Homo sapiens: one gene and its partners. The protein of the gene in region 7 purifies or fractionates together with the protein of the main gene of each other region. This does not show direct contact. Each region holds a gene or a part of one and is shown on either strand. Other genes may lie near its edges.

The links.
Region 1: the proteins of OR10H1 (region 7) and MARCHF6 purify together in Homo sapiens (affinity purification with mass spectrometry; one large-scale study listed by BioGRID and IntAct). This does not show direct contact.
Region 2: the proteins of OR10H1 (region 7) and KCNT2 purify together in Homo sapiens (affinity purification with mass spectrometry; one large-scale study listed by BioGRID and IntAct). This does not show direct contact.
Region 3: the proteins of OR10H1 (region 7) and ADCY3 purify together in Homo sapiens (affinity purification with mass spectrometry; one large-scale study listed by BioGRID and IntAct). This does not show direct contact.
Region 4: the proteins of OR10H1 (region 7) and DNAJC18 purify together in Homo sapiens (affinity purification with mass spectrometry; one large-scale study listed by BioGRID and IntAct). This does not show direct contact.
Region 5: the proteins of OR10H1 (region 7) and LRIG3 purify together in Homo sapiens (affinity purification with mass spectrometry; one large-scale study listed by BioGRID and IntAct). This does not show direct contact.
Region 6: the proteins of OR10H1 (region 7) and SNX14 purify together in Homo sapiens (affinity purification with mass spectrometry; one large-scale study listed by BioGRID and IntAct). This does not show direct contact.

The regions. Positions count from the first base shown.
Region 1 is NC_000005.10:10,405,695-10,409,194, reverse strand, and holds part of MARCHF6 (E3 ubiquitin-protein ligase MARCHF6), read right to left. Parts: intron 2,094-3,500; coding exon 1,993-2,093; intron 1-1,992. UniProt on the Homo sapiens protein: Endoplasmic reticulum membrane-associated E3 ubiquitin ligase that plays a critical role in mitigating endoplasmic reticulum stress, the regulation of cholesterol and lipid homeostasis, and ferroptosis.
Region 2 is NC_000001.11:196,598,441-196,601,940, forward strand, and holds part of KCNT2 (potassium channel subfamily T member 2), read right to left. Parts: intron 1-3,500. UniProt on the Homo sapiens protein: Sodium-activated and chloride-activated potassium channel. Produces rapidly activating outward rectifier K(+) currents. Contributes to regulate neuronal excitability.
Region 3 is NC_000002.12:24,826,238-24,829,737, forward strand, and holds part of ADCY3 (adenylate cyclase type 3), read right to left. Parts: intron 1,925-3,500; coding exon 1,665-1,924; intron 1,372-1,664; coding exon 1,309-1,371; intron 1-1,308.
Region 4 is NC_000005.10:139,412,615-139,415,525, forward strand, and holds part of DNAJC18 (dnaJ homolog subfamily C member 18), read right to left. Parts: intron 1,659-2,911; coding exon 1,534-1,658; 3' UTR 1-1,533.
Region 5 is NC_000012.12:58,886,005-58,889,504, forward strand, and holds part of LRIG3 (leucine-rich repeats and immunoglobulin-like domains protein 3 isoform 2 precursor), read right to left. Parts: intron 2,959-3,500; coding exon 2,815-2,958; intron 2,469-2,814; coding exon 2,325-2,468; intron 1,929-2,324; coding exon 1,785-1,928; intron 887-1,784; coding exon 806-886; intron 1-805. UniProt on the Homo sapiens protein: May play a role in craniofacial and inner ear morphogenesis during embryonic development. May act within the otic vesicle epithelium to control formation of the lateral semicircular canal in the inner ear, possibly by restricting the expression of NTN1.
Region 6 is NC_000006.12:85,513,859-85,517,358, reverse strand, and holds part of SNX14 (sorting nexin-14), read left to right. Parts: intron 1-2,729; coding exon 2,730-2,853; intron 2,854-3,124; coding exon 3,125-3,289; intron 3,290-3,463; coding exon 3,464-3,500. UniProt on the Homo sapiens protein: Plays a role in maintaining normal neuronal excitability and synaptic transmission. May be involved in several stages of intracellular trafficking. Required for autophagosome clearance, possibly by mediating the fusion of lysosomes with autophagosomes.
Region 7 is NC_000019.10:15,812,865-15,816,894, forward strand, and holds the start of OR10H1 (olfactory receptor 10H1), read right to left. Parts: upstream 2,801-4,030; 5' UTR 2,691-2,800; intron 15-2,690; 5' UTR 1-14. UniProt on the Homo sapiens protein: Odorant receptor.

The DNA of each region.
Region 1 (3,500 bases), on a different chromosome or scaffold from region 7:
TTACTATGTGTAGAGTAAACCTTTTATTTTTGAACAATCATGTTCCTATGCAAAGCATTAAGATCCAAATAAGAGGCTGGGCGCAGTGGCTCACACCTATAATCCCAGCACTTTGGGCGACCAAAGTGGAAGGATTGCTTGAGGCCAGGAATTCAAGACCAGCCTGGGCAATATAGTCAGACCCTGTCTCCACAAAATATTTTTTTAAATTAAAAAAAGAGAGACAGAGAGAAAAAGACCTAAATAAGACATGATTTCTGCCATCTGGGATAAAACAATACATATTTGTAAAGTAATGTAACAAATGCTATAAAAAGAAATACAACGATGAAGACAATTTTAAAGGATGGAATGATGGCCAGGCACAGTGGCTCATGCCTGTAATCCTAACATTTTGGGAGGCTGAGGCAGGCAGATGGTTCAAGCTCAGGAATTCAAGACCAGCACAGGCAACATGGTAAAACCCGGTCTCCCCAAAAAATACAAAAATTAGGCAGGTGTGGTGGCTTGCGCCTGTAGTCTCAGCTACCCGGGACGCTGAAGTGGGAAGATCACTTGAGCCCAGGAGGTTGAGGCTGCAGTGAGCCATGATCATACCACTGCACTACAGCCTGGGTGACAGAGCGAGACTCTTTCTCATAAAAAATAAAATAAAATTTAAAAACCTTAATCTGGATTTTAAAAAGAATATCAAATGCTTGCCACTCAAACGTGGACAAGCAAGTCATTGTAAACAGAGAGAAAAAGACAAACAGCTAAGTAATCAGGGGAGCCTCAATGGCAGTGTAGCACAATTAAAAGAATTGAAGTCAGTCAATGCTGAGACAAGACACTGAAAAAGCAACATGAGATTATGCCAAGTCTTGCATCTCATTCTAAATGGTGTATATATCACATAGATTACAGAGGAAGTGCTGCCAACTTTTAAACACAGGGGTAAAATAATCCAAGTTCTAGAAAATCTAGAGGCAGAGGTGTTGCGGATGAATGGAGAGCAAGAGGAAGGCCTAAATTAAGTAAGTGGCAAATCGAGTTAGATTAGTAAGAGATTTTAAGAAATTAGAATTGGCAATACTTTAAAGACTCATTAGAAGTAAACTTGAGGAAATAATCCAATTTGCCTGCAATTGGGATAATGACTGTGGGGATAATACAAATCCCTAAAGAGCATATAGGATGAGTGGTAAAGATTACTGGTAGTGGGAGGTTTCCGGATGGCTTTTTTTTTTGGGGGGGGGGGGATGCAGTTTCACTCTTGTTGCCCAAGTGGGAGTGCAATGGCACGATCTCGGCTCACCGCAACCTCTGCCTCCTGGGTTCAAGCGATTCTCCTGCCTCAGCCTCCCGAGTAGTTGGGATTACAGGCATGCGCCACCACGCATGGCTAATTTTTTTGTATTTTTAGTAGAGACAGGGTTTCTCCATGTTGGTCACGCTGGTCTCAAACTCCCAATCTCAGGTGATCCGCCTGCCTCGGCTTCCCAAAGTGCTGGGATTACAGGCGTGAGCCACCACGCCTGGCCTTAGCCCACTTAAGTTTTTAAAGCAAAAAAGATGTTCCATCTACAAGCCTTGTACCCTATTTTTAATAATTAAATGTGCAACTCTGGCTTTATTCTTTATAATGTGCTTTTCAAAATAAAGATGATGCTAATACACTCTCATTAGGTATGGTAAAACATTTCAATGGTGTGCAAATGCATACTTTATGCGCAGAAAAAATAAACATCTTCCTTTACAAAATGTAAGTACTAATGTTTATCTGATCTAAAATAAGGCAAAATTTATGCAAAGTGGAAAAGGTCCAGAAAATTTTTTAAACATTAAATTTAATTTAAAAAATAATAAAAATAAAGGTAAAATAAAGCAAAATTTAATTGTCAGATGATTTCCAGTAACTATAAGAAATGTTTTAAATGTTTAATGTAATCTGAACATCAAATCCCTAATAGAGATAAATTAGTAAAGCTATTCTAAATTTTTAAAACTTACCTGTAGAGCATGACATTGTATGGAAGAAAATTAGGCAGCACACTCTTAATTATACGTATAGGAAGCCAAAGCATCAGGAGGACAATGGAGCCAAAGACAATCTGCAGAAGGAAACAGGGTATGACACCACTATAAGAGTCAATCACTCCTGTGCAAGACAGGCAGACTTCTGAGCACACTCAAGCAATATGCAGTCCAGGCCTGTGTCTACTCAAAGCCCAAGCGGTTCCCACTCTACACATTATCTTTGAGTCATTTTGTATAAAAATGTTTTCCTAAGATGCCTGCCCCTCTTCCTGTAAGGACCTCCCATCTAGGACACAAATGCTAAAACGGAAGCCACAAAGGATAATCACCACTTGCTACCTAAGGAATGAGCTGGAAACTTAAAATGAGGAAGCAGAAATGCCTGCAACTTAATAAATCACTTGTAACCAGCTAAGACTTGCCCCATGTTAATGGCTACAAAAGCTTTCAAAGGACATAATGTTACTTTAAGAATTTTATTTTAGAAAAACTTAGATTTACGGCTGGGTGAGGTAATCCCAGCACTTTGGGAGGCTGAGGTGGGCGAATCACTATGTCAGGAGTTCGAGACCAACCTGGCCAACATAGTGAAACCCCGCATCTACTAAAAATACAAAAATTAGCTGAGCTTGGTGGTGGGCGCCTGTAATCCCAGCTACTTGGGAGGCTGAGTCACAACAATTGCTTGAAACAGGGAGGTGAAGGTTGCAGTGAGCCAAGATCATACCACCGCACTCTAACATGGGTGACAGACCAAAACTCCATCTCAAAAAAAAAAAAAAGAAAGAAATTAGATTTAACTATGTAATTTCTTCTTCTGGGTGGGGAAACTTTGACATGCTTCTGTTAAGAGTTTAATTTACAAGCCAGTAGTAAGTCTCCATTGCTTCAATGCAAATTAAACGTAATTCAGACAACCGTAATTTAGCAATCAATCATACCAGTGGTCCCCAACCATTTTGGCATCAGGGACCAGTTTCATGGAAAACAGTTTTCAACGGGATTTCAGGATGAAACTGTTCTGCTTCAGATCATCAGGCATTAGATTCTCATAATGAGCACACAATCTGGATCCCTCGCACTCGCAGTTCCCAATAGGGTTCCCGCTCCCATGAGAATCTAACGCCAAGGCTGATCTGACAGGAGGTGGAGCTCAGGTGGTAATGCTTGCTTGACCGCTGCCCATCTCCTGCTGTGCGGCCATTCCTAACGGGACATGCACCAGTACCCAGCCAAAACATGGGGGCTAGGGACCCCTGAATTATACTACTATGGAACAAGGAAGTATCTTCCTTTTAGTAAATATCTTTTTACATATTTATTTTAACAAAGTAACCAATAACACAGCTACTTGACAACTGAATACCACAGGCTTAGATAAATATATTATTCAATATACTCTATCAGCCTGCTTGAGAACTGGAAAAAAAAACCTAAACAAAACTATAGGTTAGCACAATTAATTCAAAAAAAAAAAACAA
Region 2 (3,500 bases), on a different chromosome or scaffold from region 7:
GAACCATGCTCTACATCTAGAGGCAAAAGAGGTTTTTCTTTCAGAAAGTATGACCAACTTCAAAAATTCCTTAACACTTATTTTAATCAAGTCACTATAACACTGGCCTATGGGGATGCAAGAGCTGTATGACTTTTCTGACTTCAAAAGCCTTTAAATTTGTTTGAATTTTGTTCTTCCTATTATTTAAATAGCATTAAATCACATTTGTGTATGTTGTAAACATAGTGAATAGGCATAATAATTAGATTCTAGTTACCTCTTACAGGTCATGTGACTTTGAACAAGTGATATATTTCTGTACCTTGGTTGATTCATTTGTAAAATGGGAAAAATAACAGAATTTCTCAGAATTGGTATAAAGATTAAATAAAGTAATACGTAATACATGTAACATGCTTAGAAAAATGTTTGACACATGCTAAGTAGTTGGTAAATGTTCTCTGATGCTGTGATAAATACTATATTCAATATTATCATACATTTTCACCTTATCTTCTGCATTTTTATTGGAAATGGATGAAATAGCACATAAACTCTTTTGAGCAGAGAAAGGTAAGAAATGGAAACAAAATACTGACAGCTTCCATCTATAATTTGCCAATGTAATCACCACATGGTGTGGCAGTGACAGAAGTCATTACCATCACTCCTTAATGGAACCTGTGCAGCTTGCTGATCACCCTATCTGATCCCTAGGGGACAGAGTAGTATTTCAGTTTTTGACAGACTTGAGACAGCAGGCTGTCCATTATTAAACTAGACATCTGGACCCTGTTGTTAACAACTAGTTGTTTATAATATGTGGACAATCTACAAGTTTTCCCACAGGGAGTTAAATGAGGTTGAAATGTGTTAATCCACTTTTATCCCTATTCACACAGTGATTTACAAGATGGCTAAGTGTGCCCTTGTAATAACAATTCATCATTATGATTCTGTGTAAGTCCAGTGCAAGAAAGCCAGGAACAACCAGTTCACTGTTTCTTAGATTTACTGTTTTCTGGCTTTATATGCAAAGTCCATTTCTTACCCATATTTACATACTGTGAAAATTGGAAGTAATACAACTCTGAATTCAAGGAATGTGTACACAGAGGGATATGATTCTCACCCTTTAAAGCCGTGGCATAATTGCAGTAGTGCTAAGACTACTAAAGCACTGATTGGAAGAGAGGTACAGCTAAGACTCTAAAGAGGAAAGAGGTCAAAGAGTTGGAGATGTGCTGCCAGGCGATTGTCCCCTACACATCAGCCATGCTTGACAATTGGGTTCTGTTTCTGTTTTCCTTCACTGCTTCTATTTCTCAGAAAAGACTAAGATAAATACGTTCAATCTAAGGCAAAATTGTGGAGAGAAATCTCACTGTCCTTAGTCTCCCTCTTTTGCTGATTATCTTCTGCCTCACATCCAAGAGCATATTTTTCTTTCTTTCAGGCAACTAGGGCTTTCCAGGTTCTCAACTCTTTACCTCCAAACTCCAAAGCCATCTCCACTTCCCAGTCAAGAGAGACAAATAAGTCTAATATCACTGAACTAATTTATTTCATTTACGTTAATGATTTATTTTTTCATGTATATGCAATGGTTCCTCCTTAATCTGAAATTATACTACATGTAAGACTTTATGTATGAGTCAGCTTGTTCTAGTTGTACCTAGTTATTAAGGAGTCAGGGTCAGAAATTTCTAATTCACTCCTCTGCTTTTATATGACCAGCTACAGAGAATCCAACATCATTTCACGGTGTTTTCTGGCCTCCATGGAGCCTAGTTTTCTATTCATCTGCTGCAAGCATGTACGTGATCACTCTTCTACATGAGAGGTATGCAATGAAATATCCCTGTGTCTTAGGGTCCGCCAATACCGAATTTTCTGGGACAAATTGTGAAGCCAAATACACATAAACAAAGCTGTAAGCTGGAGAGATGGAGGTGGTTGGCTGCAAGGCATGCAAAGGAACCACAGCTCCTAAGAGCACAAAGTTTTTGTTTTTATTACATGAGCGTTTAATTAAGAAAACTACAGTGACAAAACACATAATATCAGAAAAGTTGTCACTATCAGTGATTGTTTTAGGCAACAAAAACTAATGATGTAGTTTGGTTGACGAAGTAAAACATGGTTATGATGTGTGGTGAATTTCTTGGTTTCTATGTTATGGAGCACAACAATAGAAATACATTTATATTAGATATCCATACTTGATATGGATCACACTGAATGACAGATTAACAGTGTTCTATATTTTATTTAATTGCAAGAGTAAAACAGTATCTATGCTCAATATTGACAATTTGTTTATTCATAAAATTTGGTCATTTGCTGATACCTTTAAAATTTCACACACCACCAGCACTTCTACTTCTAAAGAAGTTTCTGGCCTTGCTTATCCATCTCTACTCTACATAGGCAGAAATCTCAAGATGAGAAGGGACTTAAAGTCCCCCACCTTCACTTGTATCCTACCATCTACAACCTCACCCAACCAGTTTTGACTTTGTACTGTGTATGAAATTGTGTCAGTGCTCCAGGCCCATCCTTCTCTTCTATAAGTGATTTTCTCCATAGCTATGGATAGCTTCAGTAACAAGCCACATGTAAAGCCTAGTTTGGTCTCTTGAACTCCAGACCCATACTTCCAAATGCCTCCTGACTCTCCTCAGTTCCTTGAAAATGCCTTGCTCTCTCCCAGCACTGGCCTTTTAGGCAAGCTGCTCCTTAGCCTGAAATATTCTTTTCCCATTTAATCTACCAGCATCTTCTCATCCTTACACCTCGATCTCAACACAGATTTCTTTGAAAACTTTCCCCAGACCACTATTTCATCTGCCAGACTAGGCTCATCTTCAATCATGCTCTCTCATAACATTGTGCCATTCTCCTTTATAGCCTAGCACAACTGTAATTAAGTTCGCATATGTATTTTTAAATCTAATATCGGTTTCCACTACTGTAAAATCATTTACATCTGAACTAGGTCTATTTTGCTCACAATTTTATCCCTAGAGCTTAGTGTGCTTCTTGATAATTAGTAGGGTGTTTAATGTCTGTGAAAGAACGATGTCAATGCTATTAAGGGTTTCTGCAGGCTATCATTTAAATTTTGAAATGATAAAGACCAATATATCCACAACTGTCAGAAGTTTCTGTAGGGAGATGTTATTTAGCAAAAACAGAATTGGCTCTACTGATACGGTGATTATTTTAAACCACTTATTATGATGGTGTTTCACCAATTTTATAGCCATCTTACCAATTCTCTGACCCTGTATGTTAGCCTACTTCCTTTTTTTAGAATTGCCACATAAAATTACAAAACAATGTAAAAGATAAATTGCCCCATACTGCATTTTTATTCCTAAATATTTTATCTAAAAGTCTTATTTCTTTGGTAATATGTCTGACATTCATATCCATCCTAATTTCAAAAAGAAGTTGAGCAGATGATTATAACATATTGTTACCAGTATGGATACAGTTTATCCTATTTACTATCT
Region 3 (3,500 bases), on a different chromosome or scaffold from region 7:
CCCCGGCTCCTTAGGCCCTTTCACATCAAGTCGGGCTCCCCCGGGCAGTAAAATTTTCTTAACTCACTGGGCTCCTCTCCAACAGCCAGGCAACCCCTGGCCCCTCCTGGCTGCACCTGGTATTCACATCAGGGCTGCTCCCCAGGTATTTAAGAAACACTGCATTGCCTGACTGATCACAGAGGTAGCTACAACCATGCAGGAATTTGGAGAAGCAAGAGACATCAGTGATGGGATTTCATAGCCATGGGACTGGGGTACAATCTCACCATGGCTTTTTACCTTGTTCATACATATTTTTATGTGGAGCTGTGGTTAGTTTCCATTACCGTATGGTATTTCACTGCATGAATATACCAGTTATGTATCCATTTCCTGTTGATGTCATTTGGGTTGTTTTCATTTGTTTTGGGGGAGGGGGTATGTCTATTACGAACAGTGCCACTTTGGACATTCTCATACATATATCCTGGGACATGAGTATGTGCATGAATTTCTCTAAGATGTGTGTATATATATATATACACATATACACACGTCTGCGTGGGTGTGTATGTAGGAGTGGAATTGCTGGGACACAGGTTTATTTTCAACCTTACTAAATAGATCAAAATATTTTCTAACACGGTTGTACTAACTCATACTCCCACCAGGAGTGTAAGAGTTACTATTGTACTTGATATTGTCAGAGTTATCTGGACCGGTACGTGTGTGATGGTATCTCACTAGGGTGTAACTGGCATTTCCTTGATTACTTGAGTGCCATTTATTAGTGGCCATTTAGAGTTCTTCTTTTGCTAAGGGCTATGCAGGTTTTACCCCTCTTCTATTAGGTCATCTTTTTATTTCTAAACTTCCTTGAAGGTCTGTTCAAGTCATGGAATCATAAAATTTTAAAACCTTGGCACTGGCAGGGACCTTAGAGAACTTCTGGTTCAGTATCCTCCTCAAGAGATGAAATTGCAACTCATGGAAACGGACCTGCCTGTGACCCACAGAGAATTACTGCCTGCTGCAGGCTCAGAAGCCAGGTCCAAATCCAAAGCGTCTTCCTCCCTCCTCATTTTCCTGCTGCCTGTCTGTCCTGCCAGCCAGTTACATGCAGCTGCCATCCACCTGGTATTTCCTTCCCTCCTCACTGCACTGCTGCAGCCCTCCTGGAGGAACCCATGCCAGCTTCTCTAACCTGCACGTATCAGGTCACGTGCCTCCCGGGAGGGTGAGATCCCGGGGCTTGGGCCTGTTATATTCCTGTCTCTAGAAGAAGGGCTGTGAGTGCAGGCCAGGAGGGGAAGCCGTGGCCCTTACCTGTCAGTGCCATTGAGCCCAGGGTTGAATCCTTGCATCTGCTCTAAGGCCACCATAGGTAAGCTGTTGGACAGATAACAGCACAGTCAGGCCCCATCTGGGAACAAGAGCCTGATGCCCAGCCAGGCACCGGGGTATCCCAAGTCCTCCACTCGGGGAGAATGGGAAGAATCTATTCTCAGGTCCTAGCCAAACAGTGATACGTCTGTGAGCAGCCAGGAACTGGTTCTTGAACAAGCCTTTGAGGACCCCTAGTGGCAGAAAGCCACCTCAGCACAGGCCCATGAGCTTGAACTGAGGACTTTGCGGGCGGGAGGAAGGAGACAATACAGATCCCCAGTCACGCTTCATCTTACTCGTGCTCCCGAAAACGCTTGTGGTCGTATTCATCAAAGACGGGACGCCAGGCATAGAGGTTGATGGTGGCCACGGCGCCTGCGACGAGCAGCATGAGCGTGAGCTTCACCATGTGGCTGACCTGCACCAGCATGATGGTGGCGATGAGGGACAGCACGGCCACATAGTTGTAATACTTGGGGTTCTCCAGGCAGCTGCCCTCCGTTTCCATCCCTGCCGTTGCATTGCTGGGTCCCGTGTAGTACTGGAGACAGCTGAGCTGGAGGCCAGGACGGCGGGCAGGGACACACGTTCAAGAGAACAGCAGGTGCTGGTCACAGAGGGCTGTGCATGGTAGTGCACGCTCAGCTGCCACCTCCCGCGGCTCCCCCAGAAATACCGGGAAAGATGGGGAAATTTACCAGGGACTAATCATATGAAAGTTAGTAACTGCAGCTAAGAGCCTCGCCGTTGCCTCATTTGACATTCACAAAAACTCTCTCGAGTATTTTTAGTACTGTCCCTATTGTACAGAAAACTCGGGCCAGATTTGCCCAAACACAATTAGCAAGCAGAAAAGCCAAAAGTAGGAGCCAAGTCTTTAGGCTTCAAATCCAACATGTTCTTCCCCATATCACACTGTTGCTTCAGGAGGGGCCACGGGACCATGAGCCCCACTCACAGCCTCCCCGTGATGACAGCTAGTCTCTGCCCAAATCCTTCCATTGGGGGGATGTTCACTGCCTTCTGGATTCTTTACTGGTTCTGCTACTGGGCAGATGCGGCCGGGAGAAAGCGCATCCAGAACCGGAATCAACCCCCCCTTTTTGTAACTTTCACCCACAGGGCAACCTTGTCTTGCTTGCGCGATTCCCGCCATGTCATTCTAGCATGAGCAGTTGTTACACCTCCCTAGCTTTTTACCCCTCCATGAGTGACAGCATCTCCAGGTGTCCTGTACAGTGTCCAGGACCCCATGCAGTGGTGACCTCCACACCTGGGTGCCAGGTTCCAGGCATGTTGTGACATGCAGGGGGCCTGGGGCTTCTCTTCCCTGGGTAGTGGGCACCAGCAACCCCTGGCCAAGGTAGGCTCTGGAGCCCCTAACTCCTCATTCCCAGTAGACTTATTCTTTTTTTTCTTTTTTTTTTTTGAGATGGAGTCTCGCTCTGTCGCCCAGACTGGCGTGCAGTGGTGCATTCTTGGCTCACTGCAACCTCCACCTCCCAGGTTCAAGCGATTCTCCTGCCTCAGCTGCCCAAGTAGCTGGAATTACAGGCTCGTGCCATTGTGGCTGGCTAATTTTTGTATTTTTAGTAGAGACGGGGTTTCACCATCTTGGCCAGGCTGGTCTCAAACTCCTGACCTCAAGTGATCTGCCTGCCTCAGCCTCCCAAAGTGCTGGAATTACAAGTGTGAGCCACCGCGCCCGGCCCCCCACTGGACTTCTGATTAGCTGCAGCCCTGGAGCTTTTTCACTTATACCACTGGCAGAATAAGTCTCCATGTTGGTTGTATTTGTGTGCTCCAATTTTTTTTTTTTTTTTTTTTTTTTTTTTGAGACAAAGTCTCACTCTGTTGCCAGGCTGGAGTGCAGTGCACAATCTCGGCTCACTGCAAGCTCCACCTCCCGGGTTCACGCCATTCTCCTGCCTCAGCCTCCTGAGTAGCTGGGACTACAGGCGCCTGCCACCACGCCCGGCTAATTTTTTTGTATTTTTAGTAGAGACGGGGTTTCAACTGTGTTAGCCAGGATGATTTCGATCTCCTGACCTCGTGATCCGCCCGCCTTGGCCTCCCAAAGTGCTGGGATTACAGGCGTGAGCCACTGCGCCCGGCACCGTGTGCTCCAATTG
Region 4 (2,911 bases), on a different chromosome or scaffold from region 7:
ACAGTCACTTAATGATCCTTCCAAGTTCAGAGTCATGATAATTCAGGCAGCTCAGCTCCACAGGAAGGCCCAGAACCACACAGCCCAGGCAGTGACTGAATTCTTCCTAGTCACCAGTGGAGGGCTGCCTGCCTGTGAGGGACCTCTTATTTTGTGTACAGAATTTATGTTAGACAGGGTCCTGCTTCCTAAAGAGCAGCAGGGATGTTGTCCTGAACAGATGCAAGATTGCCACAGAAAAGATGAGGGGTCATGGGGTTGGGGAGGACGGAGGCATCCTCGGGAAAGGTTCTGCTTTGCCAGTCTGGCTAGAATCACCTGAGACATGAGGATGCTCTCCCACTTTCTACTTGACACTCAGCCTACCGTCTTGCTCTGCCACTACAAGACCTGGGTCATCCTCTCTGGGCCAATGTTCTCATTCATAGAACCAGGGATAATACATCTACTTCAGAGTTGTGAGGAGGTTTAAGTAAGAAAATATGTGTGAGAGCCCCTGCTTTTATAGTAGGCACTCAATAAATGTTGAATGAATGAAAAATCATCTCAAATCACAAACTATAGGATACTGGGTTAAACAAAGTGGCTGCTGGGGCCAAAGCTAGACCCCCATATCCAAGGAGAGAGGATCTGTCTCCTCTATCTCTAGGCTTGAGCAAACAGCCTGGAGAGCTGGCAATGCCTCCTCCTGGGTCTGACCATCTGCCTCTGTGGGATGTAGGAACTCAGCCTAAGTGCGATGACACCAATGATGATACTGAGGGGAAATGACCGAAGGGACATTCTCTGGGTTCTATGATGGAGTAGGGAGGCTTCGTGGAGGAGATGAGGCTCGGTCTTGCATTATACCTTCGCCCTGGCCCCCGCCTCCAGATGCTGCTCAGTAGTTTTAATTTCTGGACTCTCTAAAGGAGAGAGGGTTAAGGAAATAAAGGAATCTCAAATTAGGCAGTTTGCTAATGCTACTAACTGAGCAGAGATTGGAATAATAGAAAACTATTGACTACAATAGTTTAAATTTCTCCATATTCCCCTAGAAAATGGAAAGCTGGGCAGGAACATGTTCCAAAGGCTAAATCTTGGCGGAGATGATGACTCTAATGAAGGGAGAGGTATAATTCTTGGTAGACAGTGTAAATAACTAATATTAAGCTTTGGCTAAGCCTAGGAATGCCTGGTTCTTAAGACTTCACTGAAGAAGGGAAGAAGGAAGAAAGCATGGATCTGCTCTGGGATGCCCTGAACTCCATTCACATAGGCAGGGTAGGCATGGAGCAGGGAGACGGAATCCAATGCCTTGCCATTAATTTAACTTAGATGAACTACTCCTGGTCCCTGGAGCCACTCCCCAGGAAGGATCCTGTGAAGACACATCTGGCTCTCGTGCCCATGCTCCTGCCACTCTGCCCAACCAACGAAGTTAGCAAATAGTAAAGTGTTCATCATTACCTAGTTTTGTATTATAAAATGGAATCAGGAACATAAATAGGAACAAGTAGCAAAACCCCAGCCCTGCGTAGGACCATTATCCTCTCAGCCACCTCTGCGTAGGCCAATGAGTTTGGAAAGTTTCTCACAGTTTTCAAGTTTCAGCGACTCTGCTTTCTGTTTCAATCGTTCATCTCTGTATAATCCTGCCAAATTTGTCAGCTCTGACTCTGAAAGATAAAAGAGGTAACCAATTCATCAAGAGCTGAACTCCTTTGTTTCATTTCAATGTTTCTGGAGTCAAAGCTCCTTTTACTTCATTTCAAGCTTTTTCTTACAATTAAATATAAGAAACATTTAGTCATTTATTCACAAAACACGTCTTAGGTACTAGACCAGGTGTGGAGGATTAAAGGGCACCTGTGACCCTGCAGTCCAACAGTATCTGTGCTCTCTTATAAAAGCACTGGACTTAGTTCTTACCAAGAAAACATTTGGCACCAGACTTAGGAAACCTGCGCATGTGCAGTGAGACCACCCTATAGCCTCCTACAAACGGGATTCCAACAGCAGCTGGGAGAGAATGGAGTCCAGTGGCCTATTCCTGTCATCTGAAACAGACAGCTGCTTTATTCTTCTCCTGCATTGCTGCATCATAACTCACATGTGCGAAGGCACACAGAGCCTACTGCTGCCGGGTGTGCGTCCACAGAAGGCCAGGGCACTACTGGCGCTGTTCATTCCCTCACCACACGTAGGGTCCCCAACTCAAAGGCCAAAGGCAGCTGGGCCTTTCTAAAAGTTGAATCATCTGGATCCGGTGACCTTTGTCTCCTTGACTAAATTAATTTCATTTTCTCTTTATGGTGGAGAAGGTCATTCTATTTTTAACCAGAATATAATCTCTGCTGTGTTTCCTGACTCAACAGTGGTTTGGTTGCCTCTATTTTTTATTCTTTTGTGAGGTTTCAGACATATTCAGGGAGGAATGCCTGAAGAGCACCTTTAGAGACGTATTGCGTATTAACAGGATGGCATGCTTGGATGTGGTGTGTGTTTCCTGAAAGCCTCCAACAGCAGGCAGCTACTCAATGTTTAAAGGACCAGACTTGTAAAAATGCTATTTTAATTGTTTTGAAATATGCCTATCTATTCTTAATCATCTTGCTGACAGATTTTGTTTTTCTTGGTGGAACGAAAGACACCTGTCTGATTAATCAGCAAACTGCCTGGAAACGGAATTATTATTTAGCCAGGGGGAACAATGGGCATTGCTTTCTGAATACGTTTCTATCAACACAAAACACTGTCTGGCATTTCTGTGCACAATGATGCTATTTACCCCCAAGTAAGGCCCAAAGTGCAGATTAAGTGCAGGACTCCAGAGTGAGGGATGGATATGCATAAAAACCCTCCCTCTACAATGGAGGCCGCACAGCCTGGGCTCTAGCCCAGCAGTTGCTTGGCAAGCAGTGGGTCTCCC
Region 5 (3,500 bases), on a different chromosome or scaffold from region 7:
TTTTCTTCAATTAAACAATATATCCTGTAAAAATGTGTCCATGCCATCTATTTCAATAATGTAGTCGAACATGGTTTTTGAAGCATTCAACAAAGAGCCCAACAAAAATAGGTATTCAGTAAGTCACTCTGCTGATTAAGTTAAATCACTGTTTTTCAGAGTCCTTTTAGGAATAGGTAGAGACTTTATTTCAAGTAAACTGTCTCAGAACACTAACAAAGCAGATAATAGTGAACGTTTTCTCCTTCCTCTCCTTCTCTGTGGATACCTTCCATCCATAGGAGTTTGGGACTATAGGGAGCTGAATTTGAATACTGCTGGCTTAACACATGTAATTTGACCATCTGCAAGACCATTTTATGGTTAATTATAAGATGTTTTCATCCTGTTTTGCTTGTAACCTACCACAGCATTATCAGTGGCTACTAGATTACTTCATTAAAAAAATTCCTACGGGGACAGTACAACATTGAGGATTTCAAGATGTGGAAGTGCCTGCACTAACTTTTACGCAATGATAATTCCAAAAGTGTAAGCCCTCAACATAGATGAAAATTATTATGAGGATATTAAAGTAAATTACACATACTAAAATGTTGAATAAAACACTTTCACCTAAGGAAGAAAAAGTTAATAATATACATCTTGCGCAACAGCAGGCATTTGGGGAGAGGATCAAGGGTGGTAACCAGATTAAGCACTGATTTCTCATCTCTTCATGATGTCAACTTGTATAGCTGACTTCAGTGAAGACAAAATTTTTAAATCAAAGAGTGAGCTAAATTATGAGGCAATTCATACTCACAGTCGCCTCAGTTTGTCAAGCCCAGAGAAAGCACCATTCATGTCTTCAATAGTCCAGGAAATTTCATTGTTCTTCAGATCCCTAATTTTAAAAGAAGCATTCCCTTTAGAGTGATAAGCTCAGAAAGCCTAGTATCACCACCCAGGTGGCATATCATTTGTAAAAAATTTCTCATAATTCCCCACATTATCTCCACCTCTCTCAAAATAATAGAAAACTCTTTTTCTCCAACTTACCTCTTACACCCTGCCTGATTCCCTCAACAACATTTTAAGTTTTTCCCTAAAATCCGAAAAAGCTGACACTGGCCCTATTAATTCCTCTATCAAAATGACTACATTCTGAATGATCCGAACAGTCTGAAAAATACATTAAACTTTAAAACCACTCTTCCAACCACGCATGCAGAAGTTCGCCAAAGCATACAGTATGTCTTTCAATTACGTAATGCTTCAAATAGCGAACAGAGCAAAAGTTTCTGACAGAGCAAAAATCAAAAGCCCATTGCACAACCTTAAATTACCATTTGAGAAATTTTTCAAAGGTCAATTAATTTAACTCCCTTTTCTTTCTCTTAGGACAGAGATCAGGTTGAGGATATAACTGGCATGATAAACAGTATCTTCCTTGCCCTTTGTAGACCTTTTTGCTCTAAGTAATTTTTAATCTGTATTTTACAAAGAAAAACTTAGTGGACTTAAAATTGTTTCCCTCTTAAGCAGTTACCAATTTCCTGGAGATCCTGAGAAGGTTCACTGTAATCACCAAAACAAACTGATCACTGTCCTTTTTAATCCCTATACGAAACACATATGGATGAAATGGATCCATTGTAATCAAACTGATCTGGGAAAGATTAAGATACTACTTCTGAGGCTGTATGCATTTCCTTGACAACAAAGGAAATCTGCTAGGAGAAAAGTGGGCATATTTAGGAACCAATTACGTTCGAGTACTGACAGCAAAACGTGTAACTTACAAAGTCTTTAAACTGGAAAGCCCCCGGAAGGCACAATCAGCAATGTAGCTGACTCTGTTGTTCCCAATGTGCAGTGTATTTAGTAAGCTTAGGCCAAGGAAGCTTGAATCATCTAACCTTGATAAGTGATTGAAAGTTAGGTCCCTGTAAAGAAAAAAGAGAAAAGCAATAGCTTTTATTTTTCAATTCAACACAATGATTTGTTTTCCAAAAGACAGGTACTGTATGAGCTACACTAATCCTTATTTTTAAATTCTGCCTTAATAATATCCAAGTAAATATTTCTAATATCAGTAATTAAAAAAATACGTTCTCTTTACTTGAAAATAACCATCATTGCTTTTGCCAACGTGACATAGAACTGCAACAGTAGAACTGGCTTCAACTTATCACAACAAAAATAAGACTAGGTTGCATGTGAAAAAAGCTGTCACCTTGGAAACTTTGTTATGAAAATTTCACAGATCAGTGGTAAGAAGCTCATGCCCTGGCATGATCCCTGCTCTCAAACCTGAGGAGAATAAATAAAAGGCAACTCACAGCTCACTGAGCTTCTGGCAGAACTCCCAGGCATCAGGGCTGATCCTGTTGATGGCATTTTGGCTGAGATGAAGTTCCTGCAGCATCAGCAAGCCGTAAAGCCAGCCTTTGGTAATCTCTGTTAGGTTGTTATGGTCCAGCTGCCTACATTTACAGTAAGAATCAAAAGCAGGATCAAAACTTCATTATCTAGTCTCTTCAAAGGGGACATATGATTACAACCTATTACAGATTCCTATTGTTATTAGATGTTTAGCTTTTGTTATATGAAGACGTCAGCAAAAAAATACTATATAGTTTATACTATACTAAATTTAGGTACTTATAAATTATCGATCACATTACCTGAATCAAAACTGAATACTGACTTATAAATAAGATTGTGGATGATGAGATTTTAACATAGGATTTCACATAAGACCTGCTGAATGTACACTGAGCATTCTATGATCATACTACCTCAGTAGGAACTGTGATAACCCACACTTACAAAATTTCCATGTTGCTCAGCCCCCAAAAAGCTCCATCCATAAGTTTCGTTACTCCATTTCTTTGCATTTTCAGAGACTTCAGAGCACCAAGGCCTTGGAATGTCAGTCCATCTACATTTTTAATCTTGTTTCGGTTCAATTCGCTGCATTGAGTATTACAAGAGTTAGCTTATATGACAATTAAATTCTGGAGGTAGTAATAAAATGTGTCATTACTACAATATAGTTCAACCAGTCAGTGTTCAATTACATACAGTGTTTTCAGTTTCTAAACATTTTTATTGCAAAGAATTTCAATTTGTTAAGCAGGCAGTGAATTTCCTACTGAAATGTGTCATGTGTTTTTGGAATAATAAAATACTGAAACTAGACTGCACTTTAATTTCTAAAGTCTTGTCCACTCAGTATAGACACAAACAAATTAAGATTTGTTTTTAAACAATCCAGAATGAGATTATTAAATGTTACACTAAAACATGAGGTCTATCAAGGAGCTGGGCCTCAAGTTTATCCTGTACAATCTGTTTACAAGTTGGTTACTATCTTTCACCCTTCTTTTTAGGTTTAATGCTTTCTCTTTAAGGCAGTAGTTCTCAGCCTTGGTTGCACACTGGACGCAACCTGGGAGTTTTAAAAATTTCTGAAGCCTGGATCTTACCCTTAGAGGTCCTAATATAATTGGTCT
Region 6 (3,500 bases), on a different chromosome or scaffold from region 7:
CATGCCTACGATTGAGTGCTAGGCACTGGGAATATAAGGATACATTCCTTGTCCTCAAGAAGGTGTTTAGTGCCAAGGTGTAGTGCCCAGCATGGGGAGCTATGGAAGCTCAGAGGACCTCTATCTTTTATTTTTGTTAATACTCTGAATGGTATCTTTAATATTATTAATGTTTTCATTTTATAACTTGTATATATAGATAGAAAATTTTTATTTAGTCGTCTTGCTAGACTTAACATTAGTTTTAGTAATATCTGGTAATTCTTTTATATTGACACAATTGTTGCAGATGATTGCAGTTTTGTTTTATTCCTGACTAGGACTGCTATATAGAAAGGAAATTGTTTAATTATTTCACCATCGAATAGTGTGGTGTAGCTCTTTTTGTATTAATAGATAACCTTTATAAGATTAAGGAAGTTGCCAGGTGCAGTGGCTCACATCTGTAATCCCAGCACTTCGGGAGGCCAAGGTGGATGGATCACTTGAGGTCAGGAGTTTGAGACCAGCCTGGCCACCTTGGTGAAACCCTGCCTCTACTGAAAATACAAAAATTAGTCAAGCGTGGTGGTGGGTGCCTGTAATCCTAGCTACTCGGGAGGCCGAGGCAGGAGAGTCGCTTGAACCTGGGAGGTGGAGGTTGCAGTGAGCTGAGATCGCGCCACTGCACTTCAGCCTGGGGGACAGAGCAAGACTCTGTCTCCAAAAAAAAAAAAAAAAAAAAAAGATTAAGGAAGTTTACATTCATGTTTATGGGTAGAATATAGCCTATAATTTTTCTTTCTCATTCTGTCCTTGTTAGGTTTTGGTATCAAAGTTTTATTAGCATTTTTTATTTTTGGTAGACTTTTTATAAATATTTGATAGAGTTGGTAAAGTCATCTAGGCCTCCAGTTTTGTTTGTAGGAAGATTTTTTATAACCAATTTAATTTCTTTAACAATTACAAAATTCTTCAGGTTTATTACTTCATGAGTCATGAAGGTTACAAAATATAACCTATTGAACTCATGCTAGGAATGCTAGGAATTTGTCAGGGAGAAAAATAAGAGAAGAGCTTATAACATGTAAAGGTGTTTATTAAAATATTGTTTACATAAGTGAAAAATTGGAAACAACATGAAATTCTAACATTGTAGGAATGATTATTTTAAGGAACATCTATTCAAGGAGTGTTTTGCAGCAGATGAAATTGTGCTTATGAAAACTATAAAGCAACATAAAGATATTTGATATGGTGCTAAATGAAAAAGTAGGATGTGATATTTTTTGAACCTCATTGATTTGTGGCTATGTATATAGAGAGTACAAGTTAATATACAAAAGTTTAATAGTAACACTATTAGGTGGTTGAGTTTTAATTTAAAAGTTTAAATGCCCCTTTGCTCTGTGTCACTTTATTTAGCCTTAGTGATTATTGTCAACAGATGTAATAAACTGTATATCTCTTTATTATTTCAACTTTTATTTTAGATTTCTGCTTAAAAATAATGCAAACCGTGCTGAAAATACAGAGGGAAAACAAAATTGAGTTGTTTTTCCCGTTTTCCAGACTTACTATATAATATCACTGTTTTTTAGTGAAAAAAAAAATTACACTGAAAATTTAAAAGAGTAGAGGGAATAATATATCAGAAGGGAGAGCCCTTTTCCTATTTTTTGGGTTGGGGAAAAATGTTTTAAGTATGTGTCTGTGTTAATAATATCTGACATAAGAGCCAATAGAATATATGGTCTTTGTTCTCAGGATACTTTTCTAGGAGGCTTTTAAAAAATTCATCTTCAGGTAAAATCGAATATACTTTCCTCCACAGTCTCCTTACTTCTCTTCCCTCTCCCCTCCCCTCTTTCTCCCTTTTCACAGAGTCTCACTCTGTCACCCAGGCTGGAGTGCAGTGGTGCAATCTCTGGCTCACTGCAACCATTAATTCTTAATATCTTGTTTTAGTTCCCCCCCACCCCAACATTGATTAGGCCTTTGTGGGCTTTGAATATTGTCCAAATAAATTTCACCTAACGCTGGATTTTTACCTCTACTTATAGTGATTTATAATCTTTAAATCATGTTAGTGTTTTTTTTTTTTTTTTTTTTTTTTTGACGGTCTTGCTCTGTCACCCAGGCTGGAGTGCAGTGGCACGATTTCGGCTCACTGTTACCTCTGGCTCCCAGGTTCAAACTATTCTCCTGCCTCAGTCTCCCAAGTAGCTGGGACTACAGGCACGCATCACTACACCTGGCTAATTTTTTTGTATTTTTAGTAGAGATGGGGTTTCACCATGTTGGACAAGCCGATTTCAAACTTGCGAGCTCAGGTGATCTGCCTGCCTCCGTCTTCCAAAGTGCTGAGATTACAGGCGTGAGCCACTGCGCCTGGCCTAAATCATGTTAGTTTTAAAGTTAGCTATCAATAATATATTTGTACATCTTTTTATGTTACTTTGCTTTTGTGGTATGTAAAAACAAAGGGGTCTTTAATGGATAATGAATTATCTACTGTAACTAAAATGAATATTTTAGTTTTTATGTAATATTTTTGGGGAACATGTATTTTTTATTGCAATTCGGGGCATAAATGGGGAATTTTAGAAGCATATATTAACCTATCTAATATTCTGTTTTGATTGGAAAAAGTTTAAATGCCTTTGCTGTGTGACACTTAATCCTTATTGATTATCGTCAGCAGATGTAATAAACTATATATCTCTTTATTATTCCAACTTTTATTTTAGCTTTTCAATGATCTGTTTAAAAATAATGCAAACCGTGCTGAAAATACAGAGAGAAAGCAAAATCAGAATTATTTTATGGAGGTGATGACTGTAGAAGGAGTCTATGATTACCTGATGTATGTAGGTAAGATCTAAGTGGTTTAAGACTTGTTTTTCATTCATCTTACTTCTTCTGTGATGCAAATAATGATCTTGAGTATTGCCCCATCATAACTGTCTTTTTAATTGAAGATACCTTTTATAATAATTCAATACGATTGGCCTTGATCATATTAAAGTTGCTAGTGTTTACAAATAAAATATTGACCATGGTCATTTGTGTTTTCTACATTGGCAAATTTCAAAAATACCAATTCATCTGGAACAATGAGGTATCCCATTTGATCCTTTCTCAGGACGGGTAGTTTTCCAGGTTCCTGACTGGCTTCATCATCTCTTAATGGGAACTCGAATCCTCTTTAAAAACACCCTGGAAATGTATACTGATTACTATCTTCAGTGTAAACTAGAACAGCTATTTCAGGAGCACCGTTTGGTCTCACTCATAACACTTCTCAGAGGTTTGTATTTTCTAATGTGTTTGTTTCATATTTTGTGTACTCTATGATTTTAATTGAATCTAAAGAGGAAGAAATCTTGTTTTGCTTTGGTTTATTAGTATTTCTACTATGAGGAAATCCTTTGTGTATAAATAGATGAAAATTCCAGAAATATTTCTTTTTACTCTTTTTTAGATGCTATATTCTGTGAAAACACTGAACCTCGCTCTCT
Region 7 (4,030 bases):
GTAGTCCAGTCATTCTGGAAAAATCAAAACCATGGAGACAGCAAAAGATCAGTGGCTTCCAGGGGACCAGTGGGTGAGAGGGAGGGATGAATGGGTGGGGCACAGAGGGTTTTTAAGACAGTGTAACTATGTTGTGTGATACTGTCATGGTAGATACAGGACATTGTGCATTTGTCAAAACCCAGAGAATGTACAGCCCCAAGAGTGAACTCTAATGTAACTGTGGATTTCAGTCAATGACAATGTGTCAACACTGGTTCATCAGTTGTAACAGATTAATGGTAAAAAAAAAAAAAAATCCCAGTTGCTAATTATAGGGGAAATTGTGTGCAGGCGGAGAGAGGGTATATGGAGATTCTCTGCAGTATCTATCTGCTCTATGTTCTGTAAATCTGAAACTGCTCTTAAAATAAAGTCTATTAATTTTAAAAAGTAAAACAAAACCAAACCCATGGTGGATGTGGGACTAGGATAGCAGCGAGGAGGATTTAGAGCTTCTGGGCATTGATTCACCAGCAGAACATCCAGTGGGTTCCTCTGTAGGTAAAACAGAGAGAGAGAAAGGTAGGAAGAGAAAGAGAGAGATGGGGATAGAGAGAGAGGCAGGGGAAGAGAGAGAGAGAGAGAGAGAGAGAGGAGGCGAGGGAGAAACAGAGAGAGAGAGGTGGGGAGAGAAAGAAAGAGAGGTGGGGAGAGAGAAAGAGAGAGACAGAGAGGTGGAGACACAGAGAGATGTGGGGAAAGAGCACACACAGAGAGAGAGAGAGATGGAGGGAGAGAGAGAAGTGGGGAGATAGAGAGTGGGAGGTGGGGGGAGAGAGAGAGAGAAGGACAGGGAGAAAGACACAGAGAGAGGTGGGGAGAGAGAAGTGGGGAGAGAGACACAGAGAGTGTGGGAGGTGGGGAGAGAGAGGGTTGGGGAAAGAGAGAGAGAGACAGAGAGAAGGGTGGGGAGAGAGAGAGAAGTGGAGAGAGAGGGAGGTGGGAAGAGAAACAGAGAGAGGAAAGAGAGGTAGGGAGAAAGAGAGGACAGAGGGGAAAGAGAAGAAAAAGGTGAGAAGAAAGAGAGAGAGCAAGCAAGCCCACTGTCTAGCACTGACAGGAACACCCGGTGGGGCCAGTTCTCCACTCAGAGACTCTAGGGCTAAGCGTGGCTGTGGACAAGTCCTGCCACAGACATCCCTAGAGCAGGGTTTCCTGCCTTCAGCATTAGGGACGCTAGGGGCGAATCATTCTCTCTCAGAGGGGTGTCCTGTGCACTGCAGGAGACTGAGCAGCATTCTTGGTCTCCACCCACCAGATAGATACCAGCAGCACTCCCCAGTCACGACAATCAGAAATGTCCTTATACGTTGTCACGTGTCTCCTGGGTGACAGCATCACTCCATGGGCCAGGCCTGTCTTGTCTCTGAGACCCCATCTGGCCTTAACTCTCACCCATCCTGGCTCTCTCTTCTTAGTGAAGCTGTCTGGCCTCCCCTCTCTTCCACTTAAGCCACCACTTCCCTCTCTTTTCTCTCCATCTTCTCATCCCCAGCTCCTAACCATTCCCTCACCACCTGCTCCCATTGACGCCTCCCTTGTGTGTGTGTGTGTGTGTGTGTGTGTGTGTGTGTGAGAGAGAGAGAGAGAGAGAGAGAGAGAGAGAGAGAGAGAGAGAGAGAGAGAGACAGGGTATCCCTCTGTCACCCAGGCTGGAGTGCAGAGGCACAATCACAGCTCACTGCAGCCTTAACTTCCTGGGCTCAAGCAATCCTCCCACCTCAATCTCTGGAGTAGCTACAGGTGCCTGCCATTCCTGGCCAATTTTTGTATTTTTTTGTACAGACAGGGTCTCACTATGCTGCCCAGGCTGGCCTCAAACTCTTGGACTCAAGTGATCCTCCCACCTTGGCCTCCCAAAGTGCTGGGATTGCAGGCATGAGCCACTGCACCCGGCCCACCCTGATTCTTTACACCCTGGGGTGGTGGCTGGAGCTTCTGAACCCTGAATCCTCTTTCTCTCTTTTCTCCGCCTCTTCCCAATCCTTTTTCCGTAGACTTCTTGCCTGGACAGACCGAGAAGAGAGGTTAAAATCAAACCATCACCTTGGGTCACATTGAGCATTGGCTGTCTTCTCTCTGCACCTGTTACCTCCCCCATCCAAGGGACCTACCTCATGAGGCAGCAGGAGCTCTAAAGAAGGCAAGTCCTGGCTGGGCACGATGGCTCATGCCTGTAATCCCAGTACTTTGGGAAGCCGAGGCGGGTGGATCACGAGATCAGGAGTTCAAGACCAGCCTGTCCAGCATGGTGAAACCCCTGTCTCTACTAAAAATACAAAAAATTAGCCAGGCATGGTGGCACGCACCTGTAGTCCCAGCTACTCAGGAGGCTGAGGGAGAAGAATCGCTTGAACCTGGCAGGCGGAGGTTGCAGTGAGCCGAGATTGCGCCACTGCACTCCAGCCTGGGCTACAGAGCGAGATTCCGTCTCAAAAAAAAAAAAAAAAAAATAGAAGAAGGTAAGTCCTGCTAAGCAAACAGCACACTGACTAAGACGTGGTGAGTGGCCTCTGCCTGTCACCCACTGCCCTGTAGACTCACATTGCTAAAGGAGTAATATAAACAGGTGGTTTCTTGGAGTCCCTGGCAGGTGCTGGTTCCCCAGGTCTCTCCTGGTCAGGTGGCTGAGAGGGGAGGTGACTCACCTGGGACTCCAGGCATCTGCTTCTGCTTCATCCCAGTAGGAGGCTCTAGTTTGGAGTTTCTCCACAGGTGGGAGCTGACCAGGTGTGGGCTGCACCAAGCAGCCACACCAGCTGAGCCGGGGGCTTGACTGAGCCCAAATGCGATTATTTATCCCTCCCTGACTCCCTGCCCACCGGCTTCCCTCGCTGTGGTCCTACTGTCTCTGTCTCCGCTACAGGGATGCTGGGACCCCAGGGACCCTGCCAGAGAGGAGGCAACCTCAGGGAATCTGTATCCTCACTTTCCCATTCCCCCCGCCTGCCAGGGGTGAGTCAATTCCCTGAGCTTGTCAAGAGCTTGAGCAGAGTCTAGTGCTCTACAGATTTGGGGTTTGGGCCCATGACTGTTGAAATTGACAGGAGGGCAGCCCTGCCATTGCCCCCAGGGACTGCAGAGGCTGCCTTGATATGCCCCGTCACCTTCATTCTTCTCCAACTGGGTCATTTGCCCAACTAAATGTCCTTTAAAATAATTTTTTAAAACCAACACACACACACGTATTTGTTTTTATTTTTATTTTTTGAGACAGGGTCTAGCTCTGTTGCCCAGGCTGGAGTGCAGTGGTGTGATTATGGCTCACTGCAGCCTCAACCTCCCAGGCTCAAATGATTCTCCTGCCTCAGCCTCCTGAGCAGCTGGGAGTAAAGGTGCTTGCCACCACACCTGGGCTAAGTTTTAATTTTTCTGTAGAGATGGGGTCTCGCTTTGTTGCCCAGGCTGGTCTTGAGCTCCTTGGCTCAAGGGATCCTCCCACCTTGACCTCTCAAAGTGCTGGGATTACAGCTGTGAGCCACCATGCCTGGCCTGTTTCTTCTTATTATGTAATTGAAATGCTACATACAAAGCAGCAAACCATGCAATGGCCAGCCAGGCAATCGTGACGGTGAATTTAATGGGTATCCCTTCAGATCTTCATGAGCATGTAGGATGTGAAAACAATGCAAACCCATAAAATCAGAGTTCTGTTGTGCATTATTGTTGCTTTCGCTTCGTTCTGCTTTTGAGGTGAAATTCACATAAAATAATCAACCACTTTAAAGTATACAATTCCCTGGGATTGAATGCATTCACAATGTTGTGTGGCCGCCGCCTCTGTCTAGTTCCAAAATGTTTTCATCACCTAATACCCATTAGCAGCCACTCCCCTACCCCACCCAGTCCTTCAAAACCACCAATTTGTTTTCTGGCTCTGGCTCTATGGACTTACCTATTCTAGACATTTCATATAAATGGGACTATATACTACTATATATAACGATGCATTATGATTGCCCCTGTGAGTAGCCACGGCACTCCAGCC